Homo sapiens: one gene and its partners. The protein of the gene in region 3 interacts with the protein of the main gene of each other region in a biochemical or structural test. Each region holds a gene or a part of one and is shown on either strand. Other genes may lie near its edges. The genes, in order: NOTCH2, CD46, JAG1 and NOTCH1.

The links.
Region 1: the proteins of JAG1 (region 3) and NOTCH2 form a complex in vitro, tested with the Homo sapiens proteins (2 studies listed by BioGRID).
Region 2: the proteins of JAG1 (region 3) and CD46 form a complex in vitro, tested with the Homo sapiens proteins (2 studies listed by IntAct, with this or other methods).
Region 4: the proteins of JAG1 (region 3) and NOTCH1 form a complex in vitro, tested with the Homo sapiens proteins (3 studies listed by BioGRID and IntAct, with this or other methods).

The regions. Positions count from the first base shown.
Region 1 is NC_000001.11:119,961,654-119,968,678, forward strand, and holds part of NOTCH2 (neurogenic locus notch homolog protein 2 isoform 1 preproprotein), read right to left. Parts: intron 6,580-7,025; coding exon 6,424-6,579; intron 5,969-6,423; coding exon 5,780-5,968; intron 4,837-5,779; coding exon 4,723-4,836; intron 3,914-4,722; coding exon 3,800-3,913; intron 2,155-3,799; coding exon 1,921-2,154; intron 1-1,920. UniProt on the Homo sapiens protein: Functions as a receptor for membrane-bound ligands Jagged-1 (JAG1), Jagged-2 (JAG2) and Delta-1 (DLL1) to regulate cell-fate determination.
Region 2 is NC_000001.11:207,755,049-207,762,073, reverse strand, and holds part of CD46 (membrane cofactor protein isoform 3 precursor), read right to left. Parts: intron 5,061-7,025; coding exon 4,872-5,060; intron 4,535-4,871; coding exon 4,432-4,534; intron 2,436-4,431; coding exon 2,350-2,435; intron 826-2,349; coding exon 628-825; intron 1-627. UniProt on the Homo sapiens protein: Acts as a cofactor for complement factor I, a serine protease which protects autologous cells against complement-mediated injury by cleaving C3b and C4b deposited on host tissue.
Region 3 is NC_000020.11:10,663,993-10,671,017, reverse strand, and holds part of JAG1 (protein jagged-1 precursor), read left to right. Parts: intron 1-7,003; coding exon 7,004-7,025. UniProt on the Homo sapiens protein: Ligand for multiple Notch receptors and involved in the mediation of Notch signaling. May be involved in cell-fate decisions during hematopoiesis. Seems to be involved in early and late stages of mammalian cardiovascular development.
Region 4 is NC_000009.12:136,501,046-136,508,070, forward strand, and holds part of NOTCH1 (neurogenic locus notch homolog protein 1 preproprotein), read right to left. Parts: coding exon 6,910-7,025; intron 6,393-6,909; coding exon 6,260-6,392; intron 5,929-6,259; coding exon 5,671-5,928; intron 5,595-5,670; coding exon 5,482-5,594; intron 4,837-5,481; coding exon 4,265-4,836; intron 4,060-4,264; coding exon 3,628-4,059; intron 2,286-3,627; coding exon 2,137-2,285; intron 1,444-2,136; coding exon 1,227-1,443; intron 1,044-1,226; coding exon 956-1,043; intron 869-955; coding exon 703-868; intron 1-702. UniProt on the Homo sapiens protein: Functions as a receptor for membrane-bound ligands Jagged-1 (JAG1), Jagged-2 (JAG2) and Delta-1 (DLL1) to regulate cell-fate determination.

The DNA of each region.
Region 1 (7,025 bases), on a different chromosome or scaffold from region 3:
AAACTAGCTCAAGTTGGTCTGTTACTTGAAACACAAAGAAACTTACTTAAAACTTTACTATCATAAAAGCACAGATGAGAGAACGCACTGAAGGTAACTCTGGGTAGTATATCTCACTTTAAGTACCCAGTGAGTGACTACCACAATTTTAGCTGACAAACTGTAAAATATTTCTTCCATCCACTCCCCTATCCAAACACCAAACTACCAACTTAGGCCATATAAGTGGAACAGGAATTCTTACTCTAGAACTTCAGACTCTATTCATAATGCCTCTTTTAATGGATTTTCCACCCAGGTCCCTGATACATGCCAGGTCTTTCTCCACCCATTACAGATCAACATTTTTTTAATGTTGTCTGACCGTTGCTTGCTTTAATTCTCCAAATAACTGCAGGAACATCTTTGGCAGGTTCTGACAGATTCCGGGCCTTCCTTTCCATGCTGCCTACAGATCACTCATATTGACTTCTCACCTTCTCAGTGACAGCTACTTATACCATACCCTCTCTGTCCTCCCCAGAAAACACCTGATATATCCTGGTATAATGATATAATGCCAGAGAAAACAAAGTGCTTGCCAACCCACCACTCACCCAGGTTTCCAGTATGTTTATTATGATGGGAATGATAGCAAAGTCTAAAGCCCCTCGATTCTAAAGACATCCAGTCAATTGCTTGTAAATCTCTCAAATTTCTTTTCCTACTATAATTTCTCATGTCTGAGGAACAGCCCGGAAGCAAATTGCTTTTGGAAGTTTTCACAAAGATCTATTCAGCCCTTTTAGTGAGTTATCTAAATGTGGGGAGGGAAAGGCATTTTCAGCTGTGACGGCATGGGATGTTTTTCGTATGCTTGAGCAATTCAAAAAGGACTTTGTTTTCAAACTTGGCATGTATGAAGCCTTGGGTAAAGACCAGAGCCTTTGACAAATTTGAAGAAATGGATTTGGAAACAGTAAAAGAAAATGAGGGTAGCTAACTACCCTCTCCACCTCTGCTCTCTACATAGGTCATTTTCCTTACATCCAGAATGAGTTCTCAATAAATCACTCCTTTATATTGGCAGGTTTCCTTCTAACAAAGGCACACATTGGTTAATCTTCCACTAATACATTTTCCTTTGATCTGGAACATAGTACATCTCTGTCCACTAACCATAGTTGTGACCATAATCATTCATCTAATAAGTAAAACAGAACCATCCAAACCTGTGAGATGCTGCTGCCTGAGAAAATAATTCCACATCCCCCCAGAAAGGAGCAGCATGTCCTCACGACCAACAAGGAGTCATTCAACCAAGGTCAGAGAACAATGATGAACTCCGAGGATAGGAAATGACAGCTCTGCGTTCTACTTTAGTTACTGTGGTGTGTTGTAAGGTATCTCCTCTTCCTTAGAATCCCCCAAGATGGCTAAGGCCCCACCAGAGACAAGTGACTGAAGAAACATGTCACAATAAAGAGACTGAACTGTGAAAGAGAAAATACATTAAAGGAAGGGAAGAAGGGAAGAAGGAAGGTAGGTAGGAAGGAAGGAAGGAAGGAAGGAAGGAAGGACTGAATTTATTAATCTGGGTGGGGTGGAACTTAAAGAAAAAAAGATAATATAGCCACAAAAAAGAGGGTTTTCAATTTTAAATCATTAATTTTAATTTTTGAAGTGGTATGCCTCTATTTAACAAAACACACACAAACACACACACAAAATCATCAGATTGGCAGAGCTATTGTCTCTGACTTCTCCACTGGCTAGGGCCATTTGCCTTGAGACATTTATGTTTGTGGCTTTGGCTGTGCTTCTCAGAATCAGGACTGTTTTTTAGGTATCTGAGCATATGCCAACAGTCTGAAACATCTGTGTAAACAGATTTGAGAAACAGTGAAAACCCCATACCAAACATAAACAGAGTGGGCTTACCTGACGTGCCTGGCTGGCAGTTGCACTGGTAGCCATTGACCAGGTCAATGCAGCGACCATCGTTCAGGCAAGGGCTGCTGTAACATTCATCAATCTGGTCACTGCAGATGGCGCCCATGTACCCGGGATTGCAGATGCAGGTGTAGGAATCAATACCATCCTGACACTGACCATGGTGGCAAGGATCGGGGTCACAGTTGTCAATGTTCTCCTCACACAACACACCAGTGAAACCTTTGGAAAGAATTTTATCAAGGATTCTCAAAGACCAAGGCAGATATTCCACACCAGAACACAAGTGTAGCTACATCCATTTACTCTACACATTCGATGTGTGGTCAATTAATACTGCAGGTCTTGAGCAGTAGAAAACGACGATCTGCATTGATTTAGAAAGTATGCCTGGAGAGAGGTGCTTAAAATAAAGATTTCCAAATCAAATTTTAGAATTGAAATACCTTCGCAACTGATCAATAATTTCATTGCAGAGATGCTTTAACTGCACCTTCATTTCTTACTAGGCTTCAGGTATAACAGCTCAAAATATTTTTCCTTTATATATTTATCTTTGTATTTCTTTCTTCCCAAGTCCAATATACAGGTTAATGATTTCATGTATCTTATGTCCCCAATTCTGACTTTGGAGGTAAGAGAGCTTTATTTTACTTCTCTCAACTCCTCTGAGAGTAGTATGCATATATAGTAGTTTTAAATAAATACTGGTTGAATAAAATGAATGAACCTGTTATGAGAATTTAAAAGAAAAAGAGACAAGTAAGATTTCCTTTCTTCGAGGTGTAAATAGACAAACATTATATCTTTCCCTAAAAGACTCCAGGAGTCCTCCCCCCACTTTTAAACCTGAGCTAAAGGTTTTTAATCTCTTTGAAACTTATCCTCTACAAGAAGAATCTGGCCAGGGGAAGACAAAATCTGGATTCTCTGACAAGCATTAACTATTTGCAAAAAGAAAGAAAGTGGCTCATCTGAGTTGTCCTAAACTAAGTAGGTCTAATAATTAAAATATTAACTTTTTGTATTAATTTTCACAATTAAATTTGCTTTTCTGTGATCAGAAATAAATTATATGCATGATGCCTTTAATCTTTAAGACTCCATTCTCTAAAATTAATGTCTTGAATTACATAAATAACTTCTTTCTCAAGCAGTCAGATAATAAAGAAGTTCACTTCTAATAATTTCTAGCCTTTCTGTATAATATTTGCCTGTGTAAAAGGAAATGTGTAATAGGGAACATCTGGCTTACTGAAATCCAATCCCAAGTACAAAATGTGATTACAAACCCAGAAATGCAGAATATTTGTGCACAGATCGTTTTTGACTCTAGTTGCAGAAGTCAGCAAAGAGGACCCAAACTTTCCCAGTGAGAGCTCTCTCTCCTGTCATTTACACACTTGACTCTCAATCCTATTTTGGTGTCTTTTATGCAGAATACCCCTGCACTTGTACACATTCAGCCTTTAAATTTCTGGGCCTTCTTTCAGTCACTTGCTTCAAGAAACACAGAGCCAGGCCTCCTGCTGAGAAGCCCCAGTGAAAAATAGCTTTCAACTGGATTTCTTCTCTTTCCTAAATGAGTCAATCTAGCCAGCTGGAAACTTACTGCTGCCAAAATCTGTCCCAGAAAGACATGGATACCAAATGGAAATATCTGGGCCAGACCACTGTTGTGGTGGAGGAGGCAGGTGCTGCAGAAAAAGAGAGCAGCAAAAAATTTGTTAGAAACAGCTCTTCCTAAACACAGAGGAGCCTCTGGGAGTGGACTGGCCTGGCACAGCAGCTAGCAGAGGACAGGGACAATCACCCTATTTTGTTCAGATGGACCTACCAAGGAGATGAAAAGTGAGAAGAATCTTACCTGTGGCACACTGGCATTCATAGCCATTCGGGTGATCGATACACTTTGCCCCATTCAGACACGGAGTACTGGAACAGTCATCAATATCAATCTGGCAAACTGGCCCAGTGAAACCTCAAAAAGGGACAGTGGTAACATGAGTCAAAGGATTATCTTGTGTCTCCCTTTACCATGAGAATGATGTTAGGTTACTAGCAGGGCTTATACCAATGGGTCAATAAGCCTATGCTTTATTATTCTCCCCAACAGGTAACTGGAATAACCAGGTGACACTCAGGGAATCAGAGGCACTTGTGGTGTGTCTCTACCATTGCTTCTTCACAGACAGACTTCACTTCTAAATGAAGGATGTAGGAAGTGAAATTTATAGGTGGAACCTCAAACAAGTAACTGTAGCTTCAGAGGCAACAGAAACCTTCTCTCTGAAGATACAATGGGGTAAGATGCAATCTATGGAGGACAATTTGGCATATCTTCAAAAATAGCTTGAGGAAAAAAAAGGAGAGACAGAGAATCTTGGAAAAATTGGCATGTGTTGTCTGTTTCTGAACTCATGGGTGAAATGTCTAAAAATAACAGTCTCACAGAGGGCCTTCAAGAATATGACCCATGGGAAAAAAATAAAATCCCGAATAGCCTACAACTAAGGCTTCTGTGAGGTATGAGCATTCTGAAATATATACACAGACGAAGAGGTCATGGGCCATTCAAGAATAGACTTGGACTTTTGGCCACAAAGGACTTGTAAGATATAGTAGCTAAAACAAATTCTCTATTTCTGTACACACACACTCCTATCACCAAGCACTTACTCTAATGATTTCCTCATGCACAGCCCACACACATTCTCTCCCTGCTCTCTTCCCTGTGGTCAGTTGGCTTTGTGCTTTAAGAGAAAACAGGGCCAGGTCGTGGGCACTTACCAGGAGGACACAGGCACTGGAAACGATTGACTTTATCCACACACTGCCCATTGTTCACACAAGGGTTGCTCTGACATTCATTTATTTCTAATTCACAATGCACACCTTTGAAACCTAAACAAAACAGACCACACAAGTGGCTTAAAGAGAGAGAAAGGTGTATTCCAGACAAGGAAGCACAAATTTGCAATGATAACTACATCCTTTGCGAGTACACACATTTCTGCAGAGAAAAAAGGAACTCTGCCATGATGAGAAATAGTCACTCCAAGTGTCAAGCAGGACAGGGCATACTGTGAAATACCCATGTCACTGTGAAAAGCGGGAAGGGATTACATTAAAAGACATTGGCAAGACCTAGCATATAAACAAGGACTGCTCCACATTTTCTGTGATAAATCCATACTTTCTGGACTGTGGAAGGCCCAAAATGTCCCCACTCTATGTTCCTAAAGACAAGCTGAGCTGGAGCTGTTGTTGCCTTCAGGGTGCAGTTCAAGGTCAGCAGTGCCTTTCAAGGCTGGAGTGGCCGGCAGCCTTAATCAGGCAGAGCAGCCAATGTTAGCCATCATTTCAAGCTGGATTTGGCTGTATCCTCTCAAAATTAAAGACATGGTCTATGCAGAAGAGCTCCAGAATACAACTAAACATGTACTGCACTTTAGATAAATGGAAACTTCCTATATAATTGTGGATAAAATTTATTTATATAAATGGAATGGTATGGTATTTGTAATTACATGAAGGTATCAGGAAAACTTGCTATTTAAAGGATTCTTACAGTAAATCATTTTTGAAATTTTCTATTACATGTGGATTTTGATATAACAGGCTTGTTTAATTTGGTCTACATAGCTTGATGAATTCTAGCACTGCCTTACTCTTTGAGTAAGGAAGGTTTGCTTGTGAACCCTGACTTCCTCTAGTCCCCAGTCAGCAAAGGAAATCAAATGCTGACAGAGCTCATCAGACTGCAATAGTATACTGAATGCTCTACCAAGAGAAGTTCAGAACAGTCCCTCCTCTCTAGACCCAACATGCTGATGGGCCCATTTACCTGGCATGCACAGACATGTGAAGCCTCCAATCTTATCCAGACAGGTAGCATCATTCTGGCAGGGGTCTGAATGGCACTCATTGATGTCCATCTCACAACGAGGTCCTGCATAACCCTTCAGACACTCACAGTGGAAGGCGCCATCCGTGTTCACACATTTTCCTGCATGCTCACAAGGATTGCTATTGGCTGAAAGACACAAGTACCAATTACTGGGATCAAAGCAGTTGAGTTTCCACAAATGTGAACAATAGAAGAGCATCTGATGGTTATAGCATCAGGGCCAGGCCTTCAATAATATCATTCCCAATTTTCTATTTTTTTTTCCTTAATTTAAAAAGAAATAAAAGCGGAGTATCCTCAACTGTTATGCATTTCTGCTATTGCAGTTTCTGCCCAAACTGTCATTGAGGTAGGGCTTTATATTAAGAATCAAGTACATACGTTTCATACAGTTAATCCCCAGAATGGAATATATGGTTATGGCTATGCTGAAAGGTCACTTGTAAACACTGGCCATGTAGCAAGAGTAATCTGAGGTTTGGGTGTATGTAATTTGCTTCTACAGTAAAATGTGCTTCAGTTTAAACATTTGCTGAGCTCAACAGACACTTCACAGAACAGAAAAAGTTCTGCTTACTCACCCATGGCACATTCATCCACATCTTCTGTGCAGTCAGCCCCTTTGTAGCCTTGTGGGCAGGTGCAAATATATTGCCCATTTAGGGGGTTGGTGTCACACAGTGCCCCCTTGTGGCAAGGATTGCTGATGCATGCATCATCCAGATGACACAGGAGACCTGTCACAGGGTGGGGCAAAGGACAACTAAGAGAAAATGTCTCTCACTTGGGGAAGAGCTTTCTCTTTCACCCAGGAGGGAAAACCTCATGATCAGTTCCTCAGAATCCAACATGGAGATTTATACGCAACTTCTGCTTTGCCTGACCCTACCTTGGGGACATGCTTGGCCACCAGCAAAGCACCTAGATGCAACCCTAGACTCTGACCCTGAGCTCTCAGCTAGACCTCTCCTCCAGGACAGAGACATCTACAGGCCAGAAGATAAGAAGACGGAGACAGGAAAGTGGAGCTATCTTCCAGATAGTGTGCCAGATTTAGCAAATAAAATAGAGGATGTCCAGTTGAATTTTAGATAAACAAGAAGTAATTTTTAGTATGTCTCAAATATTCCATACATCCTATATTTTATCCGGAATCCTACTTCCCCAATATTATGCTACCTGA
Region 2 (7,025 bases), on a different chromosome or scaffold from region 3:
TGAATGATTTCAATTTTCTGAAGTTTGTTAAAAGTTGTCTTATTGTCTAGAATATGGTCTACTTTGGAGAATGTTTCATGTGTACTTGGGGAGTATATACTTTTAAATCACTGTTATTCAGTGATTTCTTTCTTTAAATGGGCAAGTCCCCTACATGGTCTTCATACTTTTGGTCACTCCAGAGTGCCTTAAACATTTGGTCTTTAAAAAAAAAATTTTTTTTATCCAGAGTTTATCATTTTTATTTGTGAGACGATTAGTCTGTCACAGTTTACCACTACCATAGCCAGAACTCTTAGATTTCTTGTAATACAAGATGAAACTTTCTTTAAGCCAGTGTGTATTTTTTTTTTTTGGTTCTTTCAAACAAAAACTTCTAACTCATGCAGGTACACAGTAGTTCACACTGTATAAAATGAAATGCCAAGAACATGTAGGGGTGAGAAATAGGGAACTCTAGCTAGAACTATTTTTTGACTTGAATTGACCTGAATTAAAATAAATTAGAAACCAATTATACAGGAGGAGGAAGCACATACACCTGCTTTGTTTATCTGTAGATGAAACTATTTACAAAATGTTTCCATAGTATTTACAAATGAAGAAGGAAATAAATTGAAACACTACCTTTACACTCTGGAGCAGCACGACTCCACACTGAATTGTCACCACAATAAATCGTGCTCTCTCCAATAAGTGAAAATGGATCTGGTCCAGGTGCAGGATCACAACTATAAGTTACTGCATCAAGATACTCAAATACTTCTACTTCACTAAAGGTGTGTTTTCCATTTTTTATTTTTGGAGGTGGTGTACACAAAACCTCTTAAAAATGAAGAAAAAGAGGAAAGGAAATGTAAAAGATTAAGACAGCATTAGTAAAATTTCTGTGTCTTCAATAAATTTGTCAATATAGGGTTTCTACAAGCTGTTTGTGAATTCAATATGGATTTAAAAGAAGGTTTCTATGAGCAAATATATCATCCCAAATTCAAACCATTAATGTAGTAACTAACTTTCAGAACAAATCTCATTTTCTTAAAGTGTAAATACCTATTGATATGGTTTGGATCTGTGTCCCCACCAAATCGCATGTCAAATTGTAGTCCACAATGTTGGAGGTGGGGCCTGGTGGGAGGGGTCTGAATCATGGGGGTGGATTTCTCATGAATGGTTTAGCACCGTCCCCTTGGTGCTGTTCTCGTGATACTGAGTGCTTGGGAGATCTGGTTATTTAAAAGTGCGCAACACCTCCCGTCCTCCCCACCTTGCTCCTCCTGCTCCTGCCATGTGAGACACCTTGCTCTCCTTCTGTCTTTCCCAATGGTTGTTAAGTTTCCCGAGGCCTACCCAAACCCCCAGCAGATGCCAGCACCATGCTTCCTGTACAGCTTGTAGAAACATGAGCCAATTAAACTTCTTTTCTTTATAAATTACCCAGTCTCAGGTATTTCTTTAGAGCAATACGAAAACGGCCTAATACGCCTGTATTTATTTGGAAGGCCATGCTAAGTTCTGTTCTAGTCATCACAAGAAATGCTGACAATTAATGAGAAAATATGCTTAACTCGGTGCTAGTTAAGAAATCCTTTGCAATTTATAAATATATCCATTTTCTAAATTGGTGATTCACAATACCACCAAAATATTATTGTCTTTTTTCACTCTGATCCTAATAAGAATATAGTGATATTTTTCCAAAGGCTACATATTGTGTGATAACACAACAGGCCAAATACAATCTTGCTTTAAGCCAGATGTTGAAGAGATATGCAAAAAATGTGAACAATGCCACTATTCTCACTAATTTTATTTTGATTTGGAAAATTATTATTTTTCATAAAAATTATGTTACATATGTTAATTTGTATTGCATTTATTCTTACAAATTAATCAGGCCAGGTGGGGTGGCTCACATTTGTAATCCCAGCACTTTGGGAGGCCCACGGGGGCAGACTGCTTGAGCATGGGATTTCAAGACCAGCCTGGGCATCATGGCAAAACCCCGTCTCTTCAAAAATTACAAAAAGCCAGGCATAGTGGCACATGCCTGAAGCCCCAGCTACTGGAGAGGCTGAGGCTGCAATGAGCTGAGATTGTGCCACTGCACCCCAGCCTGGGAAATAGCCTGAGACCGTGTCTTAGGAAAAACAAACAAAACCAAAAAGAATCAATAATTATTTAAAAACCTCTCCGTTTGAATTCCAATATGATAAATACCAATAGATATAACCCACATAAAAGAAACCTCTTTGGGATCTTTGTTAATCTTAAAGTGTAAAGGGTGTAAAGGAGGCAAAAATCTTTGAGGACTACTGGTCTAAATTTAAAAAAAAAGAATTTACTTACTTTCACATATTGGGGGCTTACCGCTCCAAATTGCTACTGATCCTTTAAGTTCACAATATAGAATTTCTTCACCAATTAAGTAATAACTAAATGAGAAAAGAAAGGGTTACTGTTTTGTATAGCAATTAATAAGACACACATAATAATGAAGGAATTTTTTATATGGTTTCTTTTCTACACTACAGTAGTTTGAGGGGGTGGTTTCTTAAACAACATACTATATAACGAAAGTGCTAAATAAATCTGCAATTTAATCAAATAGAGTTTCCCCATTTGAATATATATTGGCCAAGAGCAAAGATGTCTAAATAAATCTGCTGTGCCTTTCCACCCAGCCTCTTTGCTGCCTCCTGCAATCACATTACACATTCATTTCTGTGCCTTTTCTCACACCACTTTGCACAGTAAGGACAAGGACTGTGTAGAGAGAACAGGCCCTAGAGCTGGAATGGATAGATTCAAGTCCCTGCTTCTCAACTTATCTAGTTTCTTGAGCTTGGGTAAGTCACTTAAAGTTCCTTCACTCAGCTTCCTAATTGATTAAAAGGGGATAACAGTACATGGGGTTGTTTAGGGGATTAGATAAGTTAGCATTTGGCACATAGATAGTGCTACATGAGTTTTAGCTTCTATTAATATTATTTAGAACAGAGTGTATTTCTAGGAATAGCTCACTGAGTATAAGAATACTTTCATTAAGTATACCCCTATACTCAATGAAATCTTCCCTGATTTAAATTCACAGGAATCTCTCCTCCTTCTGGACTCTTAGAGTAATTATCATGAATAATTCTACTTATTTGGTATTTCTCATTTAGTATTTTGCTTTTATTGCTCTCAGTATATATTATTTCTCAATAAGGTTAGAACTTCTTTTAGGAAGGTCACTGTCTTAAAGTTTTGGTATCCCTCGGTGTGCCTAGCAAGCAGTATGTGTCAACTGAATATTCCAATATTTCTACTTGACCAAATTTTAAAAACTGTCAGTTGCCTTACATAGTCACAGCTGATTTTTCCTCCAAGACTCACTTACTTTTTCTATATTATGGTGTGTTACTGCTATTGTTTGAATCTGGTTTGTCTCTACCAAAACTCATATTGAAATTTAATTGCCAGTGTAACAGCATTGAGAGGTGGTGGGGCCTTTAAGAAATGACTAGGTCATTAAGAGGTATAATGCCTTTCTAGAGGGTCTTCATTAATTCTTCAGGGAATGAGTTCTCATTCTTGTAGGCTTGGATTCATTACCATAAGAGCACGTTGTTATAAAGCGAGAACCCCCTCCCTTGTGCTTTGTCTTTTTTGCACATGCTAAATTTCCCTTTCACTTTCCAGCATGTTATGATGCAGCACAAAAGCCCTTGCCAGACACTACTGCCATCCCCTTGAACTCTCCAGCCTCCAGAAATATGAGCCAAATACATTTCTTTTCTTTATAAATGCCTAGCCTCAAGTATTCTGTTATAGCAGAATACTTACATTTACTCTATAAATGCACATTTATCTTAAATGTCTAGTATCTCCAATATATACAACTTCAAAACCCTACAGAACAAAGGCTATTACCGAGGGCTCAGTACCTGCTCTTGAGATGCTTCACACTGTAGCAGTCTCAAAAATAAGGTTTTTCAACTGAGAGATTTTGATCAACATGATGGTAAAGGCTAACCGCGTCAGTTTTGGTCTGATAACACTTTACAGAGTCATCTGGATACAAGTGTATCTTTAGTTGGCAATTCTATTTCTCATTTTTGTGAGCCCTACTTCAACTCTAAGAGTTGGCAGATTTAAATAGGGGACACTCAGTTGTGAAGGACAAATTCTCATGATTACTACATTCTTAATGCTTACAACAGACTTATTGTCAGAAACAGCAAGTAGTTTTGCTTTCCTTAAATATCAATTACTTTCTATTTACTATATATCTTGCCTATCTCCATAAAACATCCAAGAGTTGTTTGGCTAGAAGTATAACTTGTCACATAGAAAGCAAAATTAAGTTTACAGGAATGCTTAAGAAGAGAAGCAAAACAAAAATAAAATTACTAACACTTCCCTTATTTCCTCTAAGGAGCAACTTACCCCTCATTACAAATAAAGTGCATCTGATAACCAAACTCGTAAGTCCCATTTGCAGGGACTGCTTGGCCATTTAAAGGATCCCGTATATATGGACATGTTTCTCCTGAAAGAAAATAATTTTGATAGTTTTCAATCCAGTTATAAAACAGATCTGAATCAAAATCAAAATTCTGCAGTGCTCTTTTGAATGGGTGGGAATATAATTTTCATTATTTACTTATTATAAGGGCAAACTTAAGATTCATATTCACCCAGGCAATCTATTGCCAGGAAAATGATTTCTTGGAGATTTTGATTTCTCAAAGCTTGCAAAAATGCATTGTTATCTTGAACCTCATTTTACAAGAAGAAAATCATCATCACCGTAGTGGAATATGTACCCCAAAATGTATGCAAATCTCTAGAGCAAGCAGAAAAAAAAAAGAGGTTTGTTTACTTACTATAACAGGCGTCATCTGAGACAGGTAGCCATGTATGATTCCGATCACAAATAGTATGGGTGGCAAGAGGAGGTATATAGAAGTATCCTTTTTTACACTTATAATCTACTCGTTCACCAATCTCATAGTAGGGTTTTGGTTTACCAATGAGCTCCATAGCTTCAAATGTTGGTGGCTCCTCACAGGCATCTAGGGATAAGAGAATAGGAACATGAAGATGAAGTACTGATATCACTTTCATCAGCCATGGACTGTGGTCTGGCAGCAGGTAGTACAGAAAAAACAGAAAGGCCCTTGGCAAGATTTTAAATGACTGTTCCATGCTTTTACCTGAGTGCTCATAGCAGTGGAGGAAATGGGACTTGCATGTTTTAAGTAACATCCTATTAGCTTTTGGTTTGTTTGGGAATAAACATTCGACAATAAACTGAAGAGACAGCATTAATGTCTTTGATCTTAAAATATATATGGATGCATCTTTCCCCACATTTTTCTAAATTCATTTCAAAAGTAACTTCTCCTCTAAGAAGTCTTCTACAGTATAGAGTACTCTGCTCAGATTGTTCTTCCATAGTTTAAAACACTAACTTATAACAGCTTGTCACTTCAGGGTGTCTTCTCTTAAAAGGCAAGTTCCTGGGGGTCAAGAACCATGTTCTTCTTTTTCTACTATACTCACCTTGTGGGTGCACAAGAAATGCTGACACTGACAAACTCTATCTGCAAATAAGTATTCAAGAAATTGTCTGCTACCGTGCCTGGGAAAATCAAAACAACCCTAGTTTGGATTCATGTTGTGCTAAGTCAAACAAAAGGCTCAAGTTGCCCTAAAAGGACAGGTAATAACGTGAAAGTCTGAATTTATGATGGTGAGTGTTTACTCCTGATGAGTCTGTTGCTTTTCAGAATTACTCACCCTGTGATTTAATCCTCTTCCTTCTTTCTTGCCTCCTTTGCCCTACTCTGCCACACTGAATAGCTTGGCAGTCCAGTAGTGTCACATCTTGGTGCCTTTGCTCACCTTGCTTCCTCTGCTCTGAATACCCTTCCTCCCTGGCTGGTAGCTACAACTCCTGCTCAACTCATCTTCCTTAATCCACCCATCATCTCCTCCAGGAAGCATTTTCTGCCTCCCCCTGGGAAGCAGTGATCAGTCACCTTCCCCTGGACTCTCCCCTGCATGGATCTCTCAGGTAACTATCACATGCTTTTGTGTTTAATAGTTAACAAGGCCAACTCCATTCATCCATGTGGCCACAACACCCAGCACAATATGTCACTCAGAGTAGCTATTCAAAAAAAATTTGGTATTCAAAATCCACTGCTGTCAAACACAAAACAATGTGAAGAATATATTGTAATCAATTTCATATTGAAAATAATCATTCTACAGCACAATGGAGAAAGAAGATTAGGCCATTTCTTGTGCTGCCTATCTCCCAGTCTTCTGGTATCCTGGCAGGTGACCAGATATGGACTGCTCTCTTTGCATTGTAGTATGCCCAGTAAGGAAACTGAGACGCTACTGTGTAAGTGCTTACTGATCTTGGCTTCTTTCACTGGAAATAAGGAAAACACCTAAAATAGGCAGAAGAGACCACGCACAACAGGAGATTGCGGGTTTTGTCCAAAAAAGCAGCTCCTCTTCTGGAGGAATGAGACTGGCCTGAAATTTGATACATGTTTCCTTCAACTATCTGGAACCATTTGGCAACTACCTTTGAGAGGGCAGGTCTCCCATGCACAGCACTGTCTGCTTACGAAACCTTCTCCTTGTGAGAGTGAGTTGCTCCAAAAATTGAATGTTTATTTTAATTCACGTATTCTCTCTGCCTAGCATCGTGACTTCTCATTTTTACTTTCTCTAGGTTTCATACCTGTCTTGATTTACCCTTATGAACCTCAAACTTAACCTTGCTTTTCCTTCTCTTCATTCTTAGTTTTGTTATTTTCCATGTTGCACCCTATTCATTTCATAATTCTATGTTCCTCTATTTCAAATCGCTTTCATTATCTTCTTCAGCTTCCTATTTTGTTTCTTTTTTTGTTTGTTTGTGTGTGTATGTGTGTGTGTTTTGTTTTGTTTTGAGACAGGGTCTCTTGCTCTGTTATCCAAGCTGGAGTATGATCAGGGCTCACTGCAGCCTTGACCAT
Region 3 (7,025 bases):
GAGTAGGGTCAGAGGGATGGCTAACATGAAAACAAGGAGGCTTGCTCCCTCGCTGGCCAAGGAAAAGTGACCTAGAAAAGTGCGTCTGTCCGCTTTTGACACTTGGTCAGAGTCCTCAATGGAAAACGAGCGGAAATAGTGTGGGAGGGTAGGAGAGGCGATTGATTTGCATTTGCTGGTGCTCTTCTGTGGTTTCAGGCCCCACGGGTCACCAACCATGAAATAGACTCTCGGCTTTTCTCGAATGGGGGAAGACCGATGGGGCACCACTGAAAATGTGGTTCTTTTGAAGTTGGGACAAACGCATGTATCACTCATAAACAAGTCTCCACCCTGATGCCCCAGAAAGGCCTGCTGTGAAACATAAGATTTAATTCTCAAGAGAAATTGGAGTTTAGGTGTATTTGTTTTTCTGTATGTGGTTGGAGAAACGGCACAGTCCGTAACTTTCAAGAATGATTCCAGGCTGAGTAGAAACGTAACTGAAACACTTAAGTAGCTGAGCGAGTATTTAACTAGAGGGCACAGCTTCATTTAGTTTGGCAATTAACTATGTCTTTTAAAACTGATTTCCTTGAATGGGAAATAAATGAACTTAGTACAGAATTCAAGAGATAGCAAGAAAAGGATATATGGTTAAAAACAAAACAAAACTCCAAACCACCTTGGGCTCCCAACCCCTAGCAGGCACAATTACCATTTGCATGAGTCCTCCCAAATTTGCTGACGCTGGGTATCAGCAAAGGGTGCAGGGGTAGGTCAGTGTAGAAGGTCATGTAGTTCATGCTTTTTGTTTGGAATTATGACCCCTATCCAAGCAACTGTTCATGTTCTAGAGAGGACGAGGAGGAAACGATTTGGTCAGATATGAAATACAGTCCATGTTCTGGTGTGCATGTGAAAGGCTTTGTAGAGGTGGCCCTTCCTGTCATATATCATATCTGAGTATGTCCCACGTGGTGTCCCCTGCCCCGGCTCTGGTCTTGGGGTAGTTTTTCACCACTGGCTTCTAATTCTCATACTGTTGCTGCTCTAAGGGGCTTAACTTGCAGCAACTATCTGGATTAATGATTCTCAAATTGGGGGACCAAGTGATAAGAACCATTATTGTGGGAAGTAATTGGGCTTAACAGGAAATAATTTAGGAATTACCACTTATAAATCACTGAAACGGTTAATCTGTACCTCCCAAAATTAGTGCTAAATCCCAGTAGTGCCTGCTTATTAAAAATACATTAGTGTAATTACCACTACTCATCTCCAAAAGCTTTTTGGGAACTTCAGAACCCCAGTTAGCTGTATTGCTGCATCGGTGGCCCCAGAGTGAAATGAATCTAGAGAAACGTTAGGGGAAGAAATTGGGGTATCTGGCTTATTAGCCTCATATTTAAATTCCATTGATCCTATTAAAAGACTTGCTGAGATCAACTTTTTTTTTTTTTTTTTTTTTTTTTTTTTTTTTTTTTTTTTGGAAAATCCAATGAAACGTGATTCTTCTGTGTGAGGGATGCCAGCTTTGGCCCCCTTCATGCTTCAGGCCTGAATGACCAATTGCCACGATGCTAATCACAGAATGTAATTGACAGGCCCTTACTTTTATGCCTTTTGCTGTCTTTTCCAGTCCCTGAGCTTCTGTAGATATGGTGTGGGCACATGGAGGGCTTAAGGATGGGGTTCTGATTTGACCTGCCTCCTTTCTGCAGCCAGGATTTGCATCCTGCCCGTGTAGTCAGCATGTATACAAAGAAAGAGCATGTGTGTACGTATGTGCTCAGAGCAAGGGACTTTCTGCATGTGGAGAAAACGCCTTTTGCCCTAAGAAGTCTACCTCAAACCAAAGGGATGAAGTGATGTATCTGTGTTGCAACACTGGGCTTGGGGGAAAGTGAAGCTGTGCTTGCTTTGAAAGAGCTGTGCTAAGTATCTGCAGAATAGCTGCTCCAAAAATGGAATCTTTATTCCAGGTACTTGGTTTCTAATTTTTTTTTCTCTTGCAGGTGTAACCTTCTGTGTTTTCTTTCTCCTTGTTGTCTTGTTTCTTAGCAACTTATTCAAACCTCCAGTACTTATAGGAATTTGCAACCCACCAGTTCCACACCCGTAATTCTACAGGGACTTAAGATGTTTTTAGAAAACGGTGAAACTTTGGCGTGGAGGCTCTTGGGGGAGTTCAGTGGGTTAAAAGGAGAGTCAGCAGCAACTTACAGGCATGCAACCTCCCAGAAAATCAGCAATCTAAGTGCTGCTCAAAATCTTCACACCAAATAGTGGTGCCTTTGGGGACCTTTTAGATAGAAGACGTGGAAAGTTTAGCATGGAGAAAAAAGTTACTTAAAAAAAAAAAAACAGTGTCAAGGTAACAAGGAGCCTTCACAGTTCCTGATCTGAAAACAGGAATGTGAACCAGAGGCCTTGGCTGGATTCATATCACCCACTGGCCCCATTGTAGAAGGGCCAGAAGTTGGTCCCAATGTCCGGCTTTCAAGGTTAGTGACAATGTAAGAATGCATGATCTCTGGATGTGCATACAATTAGCGTTGTAATCCATAAATGCAAATACTCCTGCAAATTCTTCCATGGTAAACTTCTGTAAGGCATGTTGCTCTTCCACCTACCCCCATCCTTCAAGCCTAGGATCTAGGCTGCTGAGAGAAGTGACTCTTGGCTTCAGCTTTTAAATATATATATATCTCTCAAAACTTAATCTTTTCTTCCAACTGTTGGAAGATACATTGGGATGAATGGAAAGTGGTGATTCTAAAATGGTGGTGGAAATGGAGGAGGGTCCTGGGTTCAGAAAAATCCCACCTTTACTTTGGTGCATGGCACTGGGTGGCTGTGTTGTGACTTCTTTGCTGATTTCTGATTACCGCATGGACCACAGCAGCCCTGTGACTGCTGTTTTTTTTTTTTTTTTTTTTTTTTATGGTGCCAGTGACATCTACCATTGGTGCAGTGCGTGTGCTGGGAAGAAATTCCGCAAGGTGGCTCCCAGTAGTTAAAGGAGTACATAAATAGTCAAACATGCAGAGTCCTCTACCAGCTCAACCCAGTTTTTATGCACTTTTGGTAAATAAACAGAAAGGCTTCTTGTTCAGGCTTGCTCTGTGTGAACCAGACCGTTGTGCTTGGCTGGCTTCTTGGTATTCTATCTATTAACCTCGCCACCCTTTTGTAACTGGTGCATTTAATTATCAGTGGGATGCTTTTCAAACAGGTAAGGGTAATGATGGGAAAGGGGGTGGGGATGTCTCATTGAGAGTCACAAATCTGGATATGAGCTTTGGGGCCCCTTGGTGAGCCTTTGAGTGGGCTTTGATGAGAAAATCACCCTTTGTAACCAGATCGGACTCTATTGACATGTCAAGCCCTACAGACTTGATTGCTTTCTGTGCCTGAAGTCTTAGCCTAGATGCTATAGGATAGTTGTCCTTTCTTATCTCACTTTCCCAAAACCCACTCGCATTGTGTGCATGAGTACGTGTGCATGCGCCACACATGGACTCCCTGCAACCTTTTCTGCTTAATATGTTTTGTGACTGGAATATTTTATACTCTGGCCACCCAGACACAGGCAGGACAATAGAGTTGGCCGAATTGACTGAAATGAGGATTATGGAGAATAATAGGGCCTCTCCAAAAATAATGCTAACACAGGACAAGCGACAGGAAGCAACAGTTGAGTCAGCAGAGCTCAGGGCCCCTGACGAACCCTGGGAGCCGACTGACTGTGCACAATGGCCGCGTTGGCACGTCGGGCATTCCCAGGATGTGCGTGCCGCCGGCGGGCCTGCCTGTCGCAGCAGCCTGGGGTTTTGGACGCCGCACGCGTGCCGTTTGGATGGCGGTTTATTTGTGTCCGTCAGCTTGGCAGGAGGGGAGGCAGCCGCTTCTCAGGGCTTGGTTTGGCTGTCACTGTTGCCAGGAAAAGGAAGCTCCCGGCTGCCAACACAATTACCTTTGTTTCTTACATCCCCCCTTCTTAATGTGGCAATTAAGTGCTTACCGCTCTGCCCAGTGCCAAGGTAACCGCCATGGAGTGGGACAGGGCAGAGAACACAACCTTGGCACAGCAGCCTAAGTGTGGAGGGCGGGAGGAGGTGCAGGGGCCCCAGCCTTGCTGGGAACCTGGTGGCCCTTGGATGCCTTGGGGCTTTGATGCCAGGACTCTCCTCTAGGTAGAATTCCACAGAAATCTTCCAAAAAGCAATTCCGAAGGCTGACCATTCCTCTTTGATGCCACACCAGAATGGGAACCAGCTGCCAGGTTTCCAGATTTCCTTGGGCTTGGAGCTGGGAAGGGGCTGAAGTGACTCACTTTGCAAATCCAGACTAAAGATCTGTTTGCTACCCCTCCTTCCTGTGTGGCCTTCACAGTACTGTTCTGGAAAACATAAGGAAAGATGAAAGCCAGGTGACTCTTCGGCAGAGTCTTAGTTCTGTAGTCTGAAATCAAGAAAAACCCAGGTATTTGCTTTTGTTGTTGTTGTTTTGCTGTATAAACTTAAGTTTGAACACTTGCCTTTCCAAGCCCTCCTGGGATGGAGGACTCCGCCTCTACTGGGGGTCAGAGTTGCAGTGGCTGCTTGTATGTGACTTCGGCATAGTGGATTTGCTGCTCTGTGGCCTGGTCCCTGCTTTGATGTGGGGTGCATGATCTGGGATCTCAGTGCCTGGGTGTATGTTCAGGGATGTACAGAGGTCAAGTGTGGGCCTGGGAAAAATTAAAGTTCTCTAGCAACTAATAATCATTGTTAAATTATCTTGATTGCTGATCTATAGTGTGGGGATGGAGTGGGAGGTTGAGTGCCTCCTAATAGGAACCTTGGAGGGAATCCTTTTTCTCTGTAGGGCTGGGCAGGAGGAATCCTCCTGCCCCAGGAGACCCTAATCCCCTCCCTGAAACAGACAGGAAAAAAAGTCCAGGCTTTGTTGCCGTCACTGTAGCTCCCTGCCCTCACCCTGTCTCTGCCTCTGAGAAAGAAGGGCAGTTCATGGAAAATCACAGAGCCAGGCACGTAGGGCTGTGTGCAATTCTTTTCTCTCCAGGTGGGGTGATGTCGGTCAGCAACTTCTGAGGTTTTCCCAGTTCTGGCGAGGATGAGCCTGGTAGACTGCTTGGTCGTCCAAGTTCTTGTGCAAGACCTAAGGATGCTTTCCTCTTTGAGTATTAAACTGAGTTAGTACTGCCATGCCAGCTCAGTCCCGGCACCTTCCCTTGCAGTGGGGTTTGTGGGTATTATGTGTTTAGCGCTTGTGCAAGTCTGTCAAAACTCCTGGTATCAATGCATTTAATCAGAGGATTAATTACAACAATACTGTTGAAGTGGAGGACGTGGGCCTCAACGTGACCAGCAAATGAAGGGCTTAATTATACAGAATCAGCCACACATCTGGCCTCATTTTGACTGTGCTCTTACCTCAAATCAGTAGAGAAATATAATTTCTTGCTGCTCTTAGGGAAGAGTCCTGTAATTTGCAGGAAGTCCTAAGAAACTTAAAGAGGCAGTAAATAAGGTATAACTTTCGCTAATAAAATAGTAACAACAGCAATGAATTTGGACCTGTGGCCACTAACAGGAGAGGGCTGGGTATGTGCCCTGGCTTGCCCGGTTTTGCTTGCTTTTCTGAGCATTTTCCCACAGTTATCAGTGAACGAAATGGAATCCTACTCTGCTTTGAGTATGAAACATATTTCGGCTGAATTCCAAGGCAGGGTCTATCACAAGATATTTTTATATTCAGAGATGACCTGCTGTGTCACTCTGAGAGCGCTAAGCTGGCCTTGAGTTATGAATGAAACTCCCTTTTACCCTCCCTTTTTCTCTTTTTCCTTTATCTTATAGGTGCTTTCTCTTCTCTTGGCAGCAGTGTGCTTCTGGTGGCACAGCACGGTATTATTTAATCTATACACGCTTCTATTTCCTATGGCTTGGTTTCTGACACAGCAAAGCAGGGATTCATAACCTAGTTCATGTTCCTTGTCTACCCCACCTGCCTTGAGTACATTTCTTCAGTGCCAAGATAGCAGAAGCTTCATTTAAACGCTGGTGTTTTGTGAGACTGACCTTACTGTAAATTACGAAGGAAAATTTTAGAAAAGGAGGGAATTTGCTAATAGCTTAGGTTTGGCTGGGGGTGGGGAGGTGGAATTCTGAGATAAGCTTGGAAGATAAAAGGTGCCTTCAGTTTAACAGCTGGCATCTTGCCAGTATCCAGGGAATTTGTTTAGTTAGTAGACTCTGATTATTCTTGGAATGTTAGATCTTATTAACAGATAAGTTCATCAATAAATATAACCCATGGGTGTGCGGTTGTTTCTCCCTTTGTACTTTCTTCCCTGGGATCTGCCCCCAACTCCACCGCCCAAGTGAGGTTGACTTCTTTGTCTTGCAGAGTCACTTTGCATCTACCCCCTCCTGTTTCCTAGAGTTACCCGATACTTGTGGGAGCCAGGATGGTCTCACATAGACAGAGTTTTCAAAGGGGTTCTAAAAAGGAAAAGGGGGCCTCCCTAGAGACTGCCTCACCAGGGCCCAAAGTGTAACCTTAGCAATACCCCCTCGGTACAAATACCTGGTTAGGTTAGCTTAGAATAAATTCTTTGTGTGTGTGTGTGTGTGTGTGTGTGTGTGTGTGTGTGTTTCCTCATGCACTAGGGTCAGGGTCTGGAAAGTTTTGGGAAACTATATGCTAAATACTCTCATATCATATAGTGAGGTGGCATTTCCTGATCTCAACTTTGAGCTGCCTGCATGCATGTTGACTCCAGTGCGTCCCTGCCAGGTGAAAGGAGTCATTTGTCAACCTGGGAAGAGTGCTGACAAAGGAAGGGGAGTTGGTTTGGATTTAAACATCCAGGAACTCAATGCAACAACCAACAGAATTTTTATTTTGGCATTATGGTTTTGTTTGGTGGGGTATTCTGGGAGGCCAAGAATGTACGAGATTTTGGAAAGTCGACCCTGTTTCTGAATTGCTAAATTGTTTGTTTGTCTTGCAGAGGTCCTATACGTTGCTTGTGG
Region 4 (7,025 bases), on a different chromosome or scaffold from region 3:
AAACTCCTGGCGGGCAACTGCTTCCTGACCTGCCCAAGACCTGGCACCCAAAATCCACCCAGGAAAAAGAGGACCCCAGAAGCATGCAGTTAGAAAATTAATGCTTCAGCAGGATGCGGAGGCTCACGCTGTCATCCTAGCACTGGGGGAGGCCGAGGTGGGCGGATCACCTGAGGTCAGGAGTTCGAGACCAGCCTGGCCAACATGGTGAAACCCCATCGCTGCTAAAAATACAAAAATTAGCCAGGTGTGGTGGCAGGCGCCTGTAGTCCCAGCTACTGGGGAGGCTGAGGCAGGAGAATTGCTTGAACCCGAGAGGTGGAGGTTGCAGGGAGCCGAGATCGTGCCACTGCACTCCAGCCTGGGTGACGGAGCGAGACTCCATCTCAAAAACAAAAAAAAAAGAAAAAAAAAAAGAAAAAGAAAATCAACGCTTTCCATGTCTCAAGAAGGTTTCAGAAAAGAGTAATTTACAGGGACAGAGTGGCCCTGCGGTATCACCCCAGGAAGGGGTTGGTGGAAGAACAGGAGGACTCCAGGACCCCCCCACGTCTACTCTGAATGGGAAACACCCCAAGGATGAAAGCTCTCACCCCCAATTCTAAGTTTCCAGAGTATCAACTGTACCCCAGCCTCGGGGCTTAGGGGAGAGAGGCAGGTGGGCCACGGGGCTAGGGAAGCCCTGGCTGCTGGCACCCTTACCAGGCCCGCGGACATTGACGTCCATGCAGTCGGCGTCAACCTCACCCTGGGGCGGTGTGGGGGCCATGGCAGACATGCGCAGGTCAGCGGCATCCAGGTGCTGCTGAGTCCACTGCCGGTGGTCTGTCTGGTCGTCCAGGTCAGGCAGAACCACGGGCTCCTCGAACTACATAGAGGGAGTGAGCAGAGCCTGTCAGGGCAGCCCGGCAGCAGGTGCCCGGGAGCCCAGGAGCCCGGGAGCCTCGCGACTCACCCGGAACTTCTTGGTCTCCAGGTCCTCGTCCCCCCACTCATTCTGGTTGTCGTCCATGAGGGCACCGTCTGAAGCGTTCTTCAGGGGCCTGGGGGGTGAGGGGTCGAGAAGTGAGGCTGAGCGAGCTCCCTAGGAAGCCCCCAGAGACCCCTGGCCCGGGCCTGGCGTGGGAGGTGGGCCCTGGGTCGGGAGGGGCAGACTCCCGGTGAGGATGCTCGGCCAGGTCCCACCTCCCACCGGGGACCCAGAAGCAGGGGCGGCGTCCGCTCACTTGAGGCCCACGGAGTCCTCGCCGAGGGGCTCCCGCCGCTTCTTCTTGCTGGCCTCAGACACTTTGAAGCCCTCAGGGAACCAGAGCTGGCCATGCTGCCGCCGGCGCTTGCGGGACAGCAGCACCCCGCAGCCCACGAAGAACAGAAGCACAAAGGCGGCCGCCGCCACGTACATGAAGTGCAGCTGCGCCGGCGGGGGCGGCTCCACGGTCTCACCTGCGGGCACGGGGGCCAGGGGCAGGTGCCCGGACATCAGGCAGCGGCTACGCAGCAGGCTGGTGGCCGGGGGGCGGCGGACTGGCTCCGCGTCCGGGCGCCTCCTCACCCACTCTCCTCCATCCCGCCCTCCAAAATAAGGTCATTTTCTACGCGATTAATCAGAATTGCAAACTATCGCTAAATTCTCTCCTGCACCAGCCGACTCTATCTGGAGACGGCTTTTACTTTTTTCTCCTTTAAGGAAGGAGGATTAGTCAACTTCAAATCGCTGCACTCGCACTGAGCTGTTAAGACAAAGGATTTAGAGGGATTTTCAAGATACAAACTTCAACACTTCACATGACACCGATCAATTCTTCTCTCTCTCTCTTTTTTTTTCTTTAAAAAAAGCCGTAATGATTTTGAAATAATACCCAACAAAGAAAATTCAGGAGGAAAGGGTGGGGAGAGAAGCAGGCACCCACTTTCCCGTGGCTGGACTCGTTCCCAGGTGGCTCCACCGGCAGCTGTGACCGCCGCAGGTGGGGGCGGAGTGCCATTCAGAAAATTCCAGAAAAGCCCTACCCCAACTCGGACGGCAACGCTCACACCCGTGGGTAGCAACTGGCACAAACAGCCAGCGTGTCTGGGGCACGGGGGGATGGCACCCCCTGCAGGCAGAGCCTGTTCCCGGGATGGGGCCACACTTACTCTGCACGGCCTCGATCTTGTAGGGGATGTTGAGGCTGCCCAGCGAGGCGAGCGCTCCCAGGAATGCGGCCACGTCGGTGGCACTCTGGAAGCACTGCGAGGAGGCCTGCACACACTGCCGGTTGTCAATCTCCAGGTAGACGATGGAGCTGGGCGGACAATCAGAGAGGGGCTGGGACCCGAGGCTTCCTCCTCCCCCGCCCACCGGCCAGGGATGCTGCCGCAGGACACTGAGGCCCATGACGCCACAGTCAGGACATGGTGAGGCAGCCTGGGGTGGTGGGAAGCCAGGTCTGACAGCAGCTACCCTGCAGGGGACTGGTGCCAGCCCCCCGACTCCGGCCAGTGCTGATCACGGCTCATCCCAGATACCCACCAACGCGCTCTCCCTGGCCCGCCCTGACACCCTCTCTGGCTCCTGCTGGTGCCACAGACACGTTTCCTCATCTCAGGACAGAGTATGTGCCAGGAGCCCAGTCCTCCCCCAGGAGCCATCCCCAGGCCCTGCAGGAAGCACAGGCGTGAGGTGGGGGTGGGTGCAGCGGTGGTGGGCTGTGTGGTGAGGCTGGCTGGGGGTGAGCTCTGCTCCCCAGGACTGGGTTCCCGTGAGCAGGATCCCATCCAGCCTGTGAGATGATGCTTCTGACCTCCAGGATTGCTCCAAGCCAGCAGAACTGACAGGCAAACCCACCAGGGTCAGGCACACGAAGGGCACAACCAACCTGGCTCCTGGGTCCAGCTGCCCCAGATCGAGTAGGCATGGGCGGGAGCCTTGTGGGGTGCCCCCTGCACTCAAGCTGCTCCTGCCTGTGTTCTCCCACCGTGGGACCCCCCACCCCCACCAGCTCCTCCTCCAACTGCAAGGCCCAGCAATGCCCCCTCCCAGGACCTCCACCTGCCTCCTCTCCAGCCCAAGCCAGGCAGACGCCATGACCAAGCGGCATTCTTGTCTGGGGTGGGGCTGTTCAGCCCTGTGGGAACCCCTGGAGAGCTGAGTGTTTTGTTTTTTACTTCTTTTAATACTTTTTTAAAAAAAACAGAGACAAGGTCTCCCTATGTTGCCCAGACTGGTCTCGAACTCCTGGGCTCAAGGGCTCCGCCTGCCTCAGCCTCCCAAAGTGCTGGGATTACAGGTGTGAGCCTCCTCGCCTGGCAGAGGGCTGAGTTTTAATCAGTGTAGTATCCAGTGCCTAAGGCACAGCTCAATCTCAAAATCACCTACTGGGCACAGGAGTGCCGCCTGTCCAGGGGAAGGCAGTGGCCCAGGAAAAGGGTGTGGCTGTGGGGTCAGGGCCCTGAGCTGGAATGCTGCCTCTACTCCTTGCCTGCGCAGGCCCTGAAGTCCCAGGTCCTCTCGGAACCTCCGTCTCTTTTACCATAAAGTGGGGAGAGTACTGCTTGCCATGGCGCCGGCCGTGAGGGGCAGGGAGGCCGTCGGGGAGGGCCCAGGAGAGTTGCGGGGATTGACCGTGGGCGCCGGGTCTCACTCACCCGCGGACGTCCATGGGGTCCAGCTCCCTCCGCCGCCGCCCACCCTCGCTGCCACCAGGGAGCAGCGAGGCCTTCACCTGGCCCAGCAGGGCGTCAGGTGCGGCCCAGCCCTCGGCGGCACGCTTGATGGGGTGCTTGCGCAGCTCCTCCTCGCGGCCGTAGTAGGGGAAGATCATCTGCTGGCCGTGTGCGTCACGCTTGAAGACCACGTTGGTGTGCAGCACGCGGCTGAGCTCCCGCAGGAAGTGGAAGGAGCTGTTGCGCAGCTGCTCCGGCGGCATCAGCACCACCACCACCAGCGTGCCGGCCGCCAGCCTCTCGGGTACATGCTCCGCACAGTCCAGCCCGTCCCACTCGCACTCCGCGCTGTTGCAGCCCTGGTCGCAGTGCCCGTCGCTGAAGTGGTCCTTGCAGTACTGGTCGTACAGGGGGCTGTGGGGGGCGGGACACGCTCAGGCCGCCTTCCTCGGGGGGCCTCGCACCCGCCGTCCGGTGCCTCCAGCCCACTGGCCAGCCGCGGGGGACGTCCCTGCACCCCCTGAGCAGAGCCTTAGAACTGCATGCTGGCCTCCGGGCCCAAGCCAGGCCACATCCAAGTTCAGGTCCTCCCTCAGCCCCATGAGCCCCGCAGCCTTACTTGCACTGGCCTTCCGCACGCTGGCAGTCAAAGCCGTCGAAGAGGCAGCCGGCTGAGTTGCACTGGCTGTCACAGTGGCCGTCACTGAAGTACTTCCAGCACTGCAGAGACTGCGTGCAGTTCTTCCAGGGGTCATTGAAGTTGAGGGAGCAGTCACCGCCGTCCCAGCCGCACGCGTGGTTGTTGCACTGCAGGCTGCAGACCTTGTTGCCCGCGTCCTCCTGGCACTCGGGCAGCTCGCACGCCTCCTCGATCAGCGGCGGGGGGATGTCGCGCCCGGCCCCACCCCCGAAGCTGTAGTCCAGGATGTGGCACAAGAGCCCGTTGAATTTGGCGGGGCACAGGCAACGGTAGAAGGGGCTCTCGGATGTGGGCTCACAGGTCCCCTGGTTGTAGCAGGGGTTGCCGCCCAGGCAGGGGCTGCTGGCCGGGAACTGGCATTCGGGGCCCGTGAAGGGGCCCAGGCACAGGCAGGTGGGGCTGCGCGGGCCGGAGATGCATGTGCCGCCGTTGAGGCAGCGCAGGCTGCCGCAGGTACGAGCGTCATTCTCACACGTGGCGCCCTCGAAGCCCTGCCCGAGAGGGAAGACAGGACGGTGTCGGGGTGGGCCACCCCCCGCCCCCCCGCCACCTCACACCCAGCCCTCGGCCAGCAGTGCCACCGCTCTCCTCTAACCTGGGAGGCGGCCTGCAACCTTGCCCCCAGCAGCAAAACCCTTTACACACATTCTACCAACAGAGAAAGATCGGGGGTGCCAGGGGGTCGGGAGATGGAGGAAGGGGTAAACTGGTGGAGTGCTGAGGACTTTAGGGCAGGGACTCTCTGCCGTGATCCTGCGAGGGTGGGCAGGCATGTCATACCTCAGCCCAAACCCACAACCACAAAGCCAAGGGCAAGCCCCAGGTACAGGAAGGGCTGCTGTTGGTAACAATGTATCACTGAAATCCAGAGTGAAATTGATGCAAGCTGCTAACCAGGGGAACTGCGTGCAGGGGACAGCCACCCCAGGGAGTCTACTTCCTGCTCCATTTTTCTATAAATCTAAAATGTCTCTAAAATCATTTATTGAAACTAAAAAAAAAAAAAAGACATCAGGGTGAGGAGGAGGATGAAGGCCGGGAGGATCACTGCCCGGTCTGCGCCCCGAGGCCCCCACGTGGACCTCTCCAGGTGTCTCCCCTGGCGGGCCCCTGCCTCCCTGCACCCCTGCACCTACCGCAGGGCACTTGCAGATGAACCCGCGGGCGGTGTTGGAGGCCACGGCGCAGGTGCCCCCATTCTTGCAGGGCTTGCCTTTGCAGCCATTGATGACGGACTCGCAGCGGCGCCCTAGGGGTAAGAGCAGGGCAGTGAGAGGCTCACCCTGCTGCCCCACACGCCCCACCCGCCTGGGCGCGGCACCCACCGGTGTGACCAGCACGGCACTCGCAGTGGAAGTCATTGACGCGCTGCACGCAGTTCTGGGTGCCACGGGCGTCGCAGGGATTGGACAGGCACTCGTTGACATCCCCCTCACAGCGCTCACCCACGAAGCCCGGCGGGCAGGTGCAGCTGTAGCCGCCCACCTGGTCCACGCAGGTGCCGTTGTTAAAGCACTTGGGGCTCCGGGACACGGGGTCAACGGGGGGATTGCAGTCGTCCACGTTGATCTCACAGTGCACACCTGCGGGGCCAGGTTTCGTCAGTGGCCCAAGCCCGCCACACCCCGGCCCTGCCGTGCCGCGTGTCCGTCCCGGAAGACGAGCGCTCAGGTCTGGGGCTGCACGGACACTCGGGAGAGGCAGGTGTCAAGGGTGCCGTGGAGACGCCCTTCCCACTGGGACCCCCGCTCTGGGCCCTTTCCCTGGGCAGCTGTGAGTCGGCCTTGGCCTCACACAGGAAAATGGGAGTTTCTGGCTGGTTCCTGGATGCCTCTGGCCGGTCCCGGGGTGCCTGCCCTGCCCCTGCCCTGGCCATGGATGGCCAACACCAGCCCTCCGTGCAGCGGCCCTTACCCTGAGTGCCCCGTGGGCAGGAGCACTTGTAGGTGTTGGGGAGGTCGAGGCAGGTGCCCCCGTTCTGGCAGGGGTGGGAGAGGCACTCGTCGATCTCCTCAGAGCAGTTCACCCCGTGGTAGCCGGCCACGCACTGTGCAGGCGACAGAACGAGGGGCCCTTCGGCTCAGCCGGCGCCAGGATGCAGTGCTCCCACACCCCACTGTGAGGGCTGACAGGGCCACATGAGCTGCCCTCAGGTCCAGCGAAGCCACGGGCCCCTCGCTCCTGTCAGACCTGGAGAGAGACCCAGCCCAACAGACCCTGGCGGGGCCTCGGTGACCGGAGTCACTGCCTGTTGGGGGTGGGTGGACCCCGTCCCATAGGATAGAGGTGAGGGCCTCAGGGTAGGTGTTGGCCAAGCCCAGACACAATCTAGGGGAAGGGAAAACCCCATCCCACTTCTCAGTATAGGTACCCTCCTTCAGGCTTTCCACAGGCCACCTCTTCCAGGCAGTCTACCCTGATTACCCCAGCCCTCCCCTAATGAGACTGAACAGTGCATGGGCCTATCAGGTTCAGTTTTCTCCACTGGGCCAGCTCCCAGCCAGGGCCTGGTGTGTGGCAACACTCGTGCCGGCCACAACCCTTACCCTAGGAGGGACCCCCACCTTGCAGGAGTAGCCGCCCAGGTAGTCCGTGCAGGTGGCCCCGTTCTGGCAGGGGCTGGGTGAGCACTCGTCCACCAGGTCCTCACAGTAGCTGCCTGTGTAGCCCGCCTGGCAGC